2 separate regions of the Homo sapiens genome follow, and region 2 is linked to region 1. The links come from fine-mapping of genetic effects on gene expression. A gene starts in region 1. The other region holds a variant in brackets. All regions are shown on one strand. Distances are between the middles of the regions.

Region 1 (4,399 bases):
ATTACTGTAGAATGTATGGATTGCTGGCGGAACACTATTTGAGGAAACCTGTATTTTATAGAATGTCACTTTTATGCACAATCCAGGCAAAACAGAGGGGAAAAAAACTAATTTAAACAGCAGACAGTGTTCTCTTGAATGAAGATTATGACAAAGAATGTTATAAAAATCAAGCTCTAAATATGGCTTTTTATTTAATCATTATTACATCAATCATCAATATCAATACTTAACAGCAAGCTGATAATGTAGCCAGTAGGTGAAACAGCTATTAAAAAGTGTAAAAAAATGATTAATCAGGTACGGGGGATATTAATGCCCTCCAATTATTAAATGATAAGTACGTATTTTTGGAAGTGTTTGTTTTTAATAATCAACTGTAATATTAGTTTGCAAAAACGTAATTGCTTCTTAATTTTGCATTTTAGCTTCTTTGTGCTGGGTACAAAGGTAGTATGTTTCTGTAGTTATTGTTTGCAGCACTCCGTGTAAAAAATCACGTTCATTTCAAGAAGCTGTTATGGTATTGATTGTGGTAAAGACTTCCATTAACTGACCAATCTAAATCTCATAAGTGATGTCAGGATAGTTATGCATTTGCTTGGTTCAAGTATTCAGCCATTATGTTAGAATGCAGGCAGTGTCTGAATATGGCTGTTAAATTATTTCTAAATACCGAACCAGAACAGCTTAACAGTTCTGCAGTTTGAGACTGACACAAAAATGACAATCTGCCACCTCTTTGTTTTTTAAATATTAACGCTGTATTGGGATAGTATTTTTGGAGTAAAAACCTGTGGCACGAGAGGATAAGTGACATAAACAAAGGCAGCTGGGCTTCATGAAATAATGGAACAATAAGGCCTTTGCAGCCGCTCTCATCACTCCAGTATGTTAATTAGCATTCTGTTGTGGCCGCAACACTGAAAACATGTAATCTGTATTGGTGTACAGTACAGCTGTGAACACACATTCTTTTTTGTGAGTCCCTGGAGTTAGCCTTGCCATTGGCATATGCGTTTGGGCCAAAAGTCAAGCCATCACCACTAAAATAGCACACCATAGCAGCAAAATGTCATTTGTCTTTTCTTGTTTTTTTTTTTTTGTTTTTTTTTTCTCTCCCCTCAATGCCACATGCTATCCAGTGATGTAATCTAGTATCACTGCATCTGCCTCCCTGCTGTATTTTTGCAGGAGGGTATCTGGATATCTGTAGGGGAAAGGAGGGGGCATTGCCAGCCAGCAGGAGATGGAAAAGGCAGCGGCCCCAAAAGAGTCAAATTAGAAAATAAATTATTTCTTTTTGCATTATATGTTTAAATGCATATATAGAGAATATATATATATATATGCATATATATGTGTGTGTGTATATATATAAAGAGAGAATATATATACATTGAAGAATCTATGCATTTAATATCTGCCACCTTTTTGCATAGATTCTTCCTTAAGTGTCATGAAACTAGAATCCGCTGCTTGTTTTCGTAAGGTAAAAGAAGGGCAGTTAATTTCAGCACCAAGGCTTGGAGGAAATGAGACCTAAGAAAAAAGAATCAGAGTAAAATTTACCCTTATTTATCATTTCTATTTAGAACTGGGTTGACAGTCTTTCATGCATGTACTTAGGATGGGATTGGCTCTTCCCATTTCAGAGCTGACAAAACTGAGGCTGAGGCATGGTCCAAAGATGGGCCCTAATTGCAGGGCCTTTCTGGCCTCTGTACAGAGAGAGTGAAAACAATTGGTCATTTTGAGGGAAAGGGGTTAGCACCAGTGAGCAGAGGCAGTTAGTAGCTGGGAGCAGTGACTCCAGCCTTCAGAGGCAGGACTCAGAAAGGCCTCTCTTGTGTGATTTTGCTGCTCACACGTGGCCTGCTGGGAGCCGCCCCTGGTACTGCCGGGACACGGCCCTGGGATTTTGCTGAGGCCAGCTTTGGAACAGGGGAGGTGAGTCTGGAGAAGAGAGTTTCCACGTTGTCATCATAGGATCTGGACTCAAGTGACCAAAACCTTGCTTGGATTTTTACCTGATGAAGTTTGTCTTGAAAAGTGAAAATGGTTCCATTTCCATTTTCCCTGTTCTCAAGGTAATTCAGCTTTCTTTGTGTGTGAGTGTGTGAGTGTGTGCAAGTGTGTGTGCGTGCAGTCTCCCCAGCATAGAACACCCACACATGCACCCACCCACATGCAGACACGCACATACTCATGCATGGATTCTTGTTCACGAAGTACACACCCTTTTGCAAAATAATTTTTGAATAAAAAATTATAGCCCTTTAAATTTATTATAATTTAGAAAGGGACCATCCGATGGTTAAAACTTTTCCTATAATTCCTACATTAATTCTCTCCATCACCCGCCCCCCCCATCTAATCTGACTGTACCAAAAGATTTGAAAACAAAGCAAAAACACCAACCAACCAAACAAAACAACCCACCTGCTTCTAAAGTAACTTTCAGACTCCCTGGGCAAAGATTCTTGTCTCTTTCTGAAAGATGAGCATGAATTCTGAGCTCCAAATTTTGCTTTTAATCTGTCTCCAACCTAATTGAAAAATTACCATACCACACAAAGAAAACTCCGCATCGGGATCACCATGCTGATCCAATTGGGTTCTGCTTTTTGACGTTAGAGAAATCAAATTGTCTGGCGATTTGGTGACATGCTTGAATGTCCACCTGGGAGAAGACTAGGTTAAAAGTTAATAGCACTTGTGCTTTTCTTCCCCCCGACCTTTTTTTAAACTCCAGTAGAACGGAACTCTTCCCCACTGGCCAGGCCCTCATCCTGAATCCCTTGTCCAGCCTGGAGGTCTTCTGAGAGTTCTCAGTTGGCACCTTTCCCCTGACTTGTCCCTGTGAGGTAAGGCAGGGCTGACACTGAGATTTTAGTTCTGTTGTTCTTTTTTTTTTCCTAGAAATTCACACCCCCCACCCCTTGGTTAATGGCTCTTTAAATATTGAAATGCCTGGAAAAACAAAACAAAATAAAATAAAATGCAGCCTGTCAAAGAAATAAGAACAACAACAACAAAAATGTTGGTATCTTTTAGAATGTGTCTTCCTAGTGGTAAAAGTATATAATTAATAGGAGAATTTTCCTCCAGATGTGGCTATACTATAATAGAGCCTTATAAATGCTACAGAAAGAAAAATTGCTTGGAACGAAGGCGTCCTCAATGAGAGCACACCTGGGTCTGACAAAGATTGCATTTAGGGACTGCTGTGCTATCACAACGCAGAGAAAGACCAAGTCTCTGGGAGCAGCTGGAGAGAAAGCCCCGGCAAATCTGCATGCAAATAGCAGCACATTGTTAACTTAATCAGATGCCGAGGAAAGATGTGCCAGAATTCCAGGATGATCTACACACACGGAGGAGGAGCGGCCTGAGCTGCAGTGGGAGCCGGGGCCAAGGTGGGCCTCAGCAAGGTGCACGCGGCCCGGCCCCAGCCCCAGGGCCGCAGCCCACCCGCCGCCCGCCTGTTTTCCGGGCCTGCAGTCAATTCACCACATAATGCCCGATTCGCTCTTTGCAAAGATAGAAACGATAGAGCGTATTTCAATGGGATGGAAGCTTTATTATTATTATTTTTTAATGGTGATATAGGTATGGGCATTATTTCGCCTGAGTCCGTAACTCCAATTAAATAATATTTCTGCTTAAATATCCGGGTGCATGAAGATAAGAAATATTGCCCTGGAGTGTATAAAGAAAGAGTTTTTTTTTCAATAAGAAAAGTAGTTCTCTATAGGTTGAAGTGCTGGGTATAAATTGCACCTTAAGAAGAAGTGGAAGACACCTGTTATTTATATTTTATATTAATATTAATGGAAATATATATATCTTAAATCTCCATCTTTTAGTCTAGCACCGTAAAAAATATAAAGTAATACTATTTAATCACCCACAGCTTAATAGTGCCTTAGTTGTTTACTGCCATTGCACTAATTGCTCTGTACTAATGTGTTTTTCTGTGATATCCAGTAGTGCTAAGAGAACAGAGATCCATAACCAATTAAATATAGTGTTTTTTTTTAATGTTAAAAATATATCTGGTGAGGCTAGAAAAGGAATAGAAACCGCCCTGAAGAAAGGCGCCTTGGCACCGCCTCGGTGCCCACCAGAAGGTGCCCGGATTGCCTCTTTTGCGCAAAGACAAAGGGGGTAATTTTTTGGCAAGAAAACAAACCCAAGGAAAACACAACAAACTGAGTGTTGTTTTTTTTTCTTTCCCTCCTGCAACTTCTCGGACCGTCTCTGCCCTCTCTCCTCCAGAGAGGGCGAGTTTCATCCTGGAGGGAGGCCGGGGGAGCTGCGAGGCCACCCCCAGCCGGCGCCCGGGCGGATTGCGAGCCCCCGCGGGTCCGGCCGGGGGAGCGGAGACTGGCCCCCC
Region 2 (4,399 bases), 150 kb before region 1:
GGATTTTGTAGGGCCCATGGGATCTACAGCACTCAGGAACCTTGGGTGCAAGTGCAGATTCAGCCTGCCAGAGACTCTCCAGGGATACAAGCTCAGCCCTTGGGGCCGCCCCTCCCATTTCCCCTACACCGCACCATCCAATTGCATTTTACTCCTCTCTTGGAGCCTGGCACCATCAACATGCATTTGACCTTCAGCACATATCTCTTTGCTCCGAGGCTTCCCTTTCTCTTTCCCCCAAATCCACCAGACTCGACTAAGCCCTTTGGTGGAATCAGGATTTAAAACAAAGCCTCTATAGTGATGGTCCTTCCCTGGCTCCTGGCCCACCACCCACCCTGAGCTCCAGTCTGTTCCCTGTACAGGCCCATGGCCAGCTCTCCATGGAAGCGGGCTGTGACACAGGGCTCTCAGGCACTGGCCAGGGTCAGGGACTTGCTTTTTGCCTGACTTTTTCATTTTCATTTGTTTTCAAGTTGCTACCTGGTAGAGAAATGCTTCCTACAAGGCGATAAAGCTCCGTATTTACCCGTGTAAGTCCCGGGGATTGTTACTGGTGATTCTGTTCAATCCATACAGACCAGGTCACATCTATGAGCCAAAGGGTAACTGTAACCTTTTCCAAAAAACTATATTTTATAAATATTTGCTCCCTTTCATTTGTAGTGGCAAGCAAAATTTGCACTTCTTCCCCAGGTAAAACCAGGGCTGAAAATTGGGACTTTGGAAAAGCAAGGGGCCAGGTCACAGCCATGTGCTGCATGATGCGCACATTTACAGCATGGGAAAGGGAGTACCAGAGAAATCAACATCTTAAGAAAATAAGTTCTGGGATCCCCACCATCAGTTTCGTCTCATAACCTGATATTTTGTTTCAGTTACAATTCAGTACAACTGAATTGTAGTCTCAACAGCCCCCCAAATTTAGAACTTACTATGGGCTATTTCATTGATTTCTCCTCTTCAGGAAAACAAAGCACAGGCCACATTCTGGTCAGAAAGTCCGCTAGCTTCATAACATTTCCCCCAAACCTAATTCAAAACCGATGATAGCTGTTGAAGACAACTGCAGGGCCCAGAGTTGATGGTCCAGGATCTATTCAGGACATTTCTGTTCCACAGCCTTGCAAAGGAGTGGGTGTGTGAGGTTGTAATTATACTCAATAGACCTCAGCACATTTTTTGTTGTTGTTGTTGAGACAGAGTCTCACTTTGTCACTCAGGCTGAAGTGCAGTGGTACAATCTTGGCTCACTGCAACATCCACCTCTGGGGTTCAAGCGATTCTCCTGCCTCGGCCTCCTGAGTAGTTGGAATTACAGGCACACACCACTATGCCTGGCTAATTTTTGTATTTTTCGTAGAGATGGGGTTTCACCATGTTGGTCAGGCTGGTCTCAAACTCCTGATCTCATGATCTGCCCGCCTCGGCCTTCCAAAGTGCTAGGATTACAGGCGTGAGACACCGCGCCCAGCCGCTCAGCACATTTTTTTTTGCATTTGACTAACTCATACAAAGACACCAAGAAGACATCCACATTGGTCCTGCTTTACAATAAAGCCTGATGTAGGAAAATTAGGATTATAAATAAATTACTGTTAATTTGTTATTTTAGGACACGCCCATTCATTTTACAAATGACATTGTCTGTTGAGATGCCTTAAATAACCAGCTCTTCCAGTGCAATCAGGTTCAATTTACAAAAATTTACTTTATAAGCATCTCTTCTGGCACAGAGCTATTAATGCAAAGCAAGGTGCACCTGTAGCTTTAAGAGAATTCTGGTAAGTTCTTTGCCCATTCACTGGAAAGAACACCAGGGACCATGCTTTGCTTTTCTGCCCCTTGTTCCAGCCTTGTTTTTGAGCGCTCTGGTCCCTGGCCCAGGTGTTCTTTGTTCTTGTCAGGTGCTAACTATTATCAGATCTCATTCTGTGGCAAATAGCAGAAAACCCAAAGTAAACTGAATTAAGTTAAAGGAAGTTTATCCACTTACAAAACAGAAAGGTGCTGGGGTGGAGCTGGCTTCAAATGTGGCTGGATTCAGGGCTCATACAAGGCAAGCAGCACCA[T/A]TTCTCTATCTCCATCCTGCCACGGACTGTGTTGGCACCCTTCTCTGGCTCCTCTTGGTGGCCCCTGAAAACTCTGGACTCTGTTCTTTTGGTGCTGGGATGGAAACTACAGTTCTCCAGCAGTTTAACCTCTCCACTAGCACCTAGCAAAAAAAAAAAAAAAAAAAAAAAGTCCAAGATTCACTCTGATTGGACCAACTTAGGCCATATGCCTATTACTGAATGACAGAATCCAGAGAGATGTGATGCACTGATTGCCTGGGATCCGGGGCAGGACCCCCACCCAGATGCCCGCAAGGCAGGAAGGGAAGGTGAAGCTGTTGCTGGAGGAAGGGACATGTTCCGCCAGGACAACACGAATCACTATGCTGACTTCTTCCCTCTGTTGGAAAAACCGGAAGAGGTGTACAACCTTTTCTTGAGCTTGTGGGGCAGCAGCACCCTGGGTCTGGGACCAACAGGTCATGGCAGAATAGCCAAACAGATCAGATGCTTCCCCAATTTCTTCTTATTCAGGAATCACCTCCACCTCTAAGGGCACCCTTCTGAATCATGCTCTCAGGGAGTCTTTGAAGGGTCATTCATACTGCATTGCTCATGACAGAAAAGGCTGCACCTTGGCCTTGGTGGAGAGACAAATGACCCCTGCAGCATAGAAAACCCTTTTTCCTAGTGCAGGACAACTCCTTGCTGAAGCCAGGTAGCCTTCCTCCCAGTAAAGGATGGTCGCCTACTCCCCTGAGATGGAAAAGCAGGGTTCTCCATGGGAGGCCACCTGGGACCCTGTGGCCATGCAGACCAACTCCCCACCTAACACATGGGCCCTTTGCAGACCTAGCGTCTTTCTTCTGCTTGAAGAAGGGAGTCATAACCTGGGGATTAGGGGTATCATTGTGCTAAAACCACTGACTGTGAGTGATCAAAGGGGTATTACAGATGTTGGAGGTCATCTTTATATAGATGGAAAAACTGAGGTTCCAGAGGAGAGGGAACTTGGCCTCTTGATTCAGAAGTGTCCTGGTCCACCCTTCCATCCTGGAGCCAATGTAGCCCTCTTGGGTACCCTCCCTGCTGCTTTTAAATCTGTCTATACAGCAAGTCCTCACTTAATATTGTTGATGGATTCTTGGAAACTGACTTTAAGCAAGTGATGTATAATGAAACTAGTTTTACCATAGATTGATTGATACAAACAAGAGTTAAGTTCCTACAGCATGTCTCTGGTCACAAAGCTTCACCGCGCTTCTACATGTCTAAACATTGAAATAAATATGAGCTATACATACATTTAAGAGCCATTAATAAAACAAGTAAGATCATTACTTACCCCAGTTTTTGATCAATTAGTGAGGGTGGTCATAGTAGTAATGGGTTAAGTCAAAGAATACATGTTTGCAAAGTGAAAATTGTAAGGAGTACCTCTCACCACCACCAAGTTGAAAAACAAAAAATCACAAATATGGTGGACTCAAAATATGTGCAGTCGAAAGTGCACAACTATGAGCACTTTTGTACTGTACTGTTTCTTGGCATACATTAGTATGATTATCATATATTTTATGTATTTTATTTGACAATAATTTATATTCATTCATTGTTTCATGTTCCAGCCTGATGATTCCAGTTCACCATCTCAAGGGGCTGGAGCCTGTCTTAGCAACTCAGGGTGCAGGGCAGGAACCAGCCCTGGACAGGATGCCATCTCATTGCAGGGAACACTCATACATATACCTACACTCCCTCGGGTTGGCACCATGCAGACATGGCTATTCACCTACCGTGCATGTCTTTGGGGCATGGGAGGAAACGTGAGTACCCAGAGACAACCCACGCAGACCTGGGAAGAACGTACACAGTCCGCACAGATAGTGGCCCTGGCTGGAATCCATGTTTTTTTCTCATTACATTATAAGGAAACAATGTTGAAGGAAACAATATTATAAGAAGACCTGGTGTACTATGAAGGAGGCAGGATTATAAGGAGCAGAAGAGAGTGAAGGGAAAAGAATAGCAATATACAAACAAACAAACAAAATGAGTAGTGTTGTGACCAGGAGTGCAACTCCAAAGTAATGGTTTGATAACATTTTATGAATCACTGCCATGTTTGAGGCGCGAATGACAGAGGTCAGAACAAACCTATTGGTGTGATCAGTATCACTTTCAAAGTAGGCACTTTGAGTGATTGAACGCTTCTTATAAGGAGCTGATGGGCTCCAGCCTGGTGCAGCGCTTCCCAGCCTTGCTTTTGAGCTGGTCCAGGAGTCACCAAAGAACTCATTTCACCACCTTGATTTTTACCCACAGCCACCACCCACCTAACTCAT

The links. PIP is the estimated chance that this variant, and not a neighbour inherited with it, causes the effect. A credible set is the group of variants that fine-mapping cannot tell apart.
Region 2: its variant is the best candidate, but not a certain one, in a credible set for the expression of ZNF536 in thyroid (GTEx, PIP 0.61).

Annotation. Positions count from the first base shown.
Region 1 is chr19:30,370,467-30,374,865 of GRCh38, forward strand. It overlaps ZNF536 (zinc finger protein 536), which reads left to right and starts at 1,918. Exons shown (of 5, transcript NM_014717.3): 1 at 1,918-2,090. RefSeq lists an enhancer at 2,962-3,463.
Region 2 is chr19:30,217,576-30,221,974 of GRCh38, forward strand. No RefSeq gene overlaps it. Among named protein-coding and RNA genes, the nearest start is that of ZNF536, 150 kb to the right of the region's middle. The variant T/A (reference allele first, on the strand shown) is at 2,073.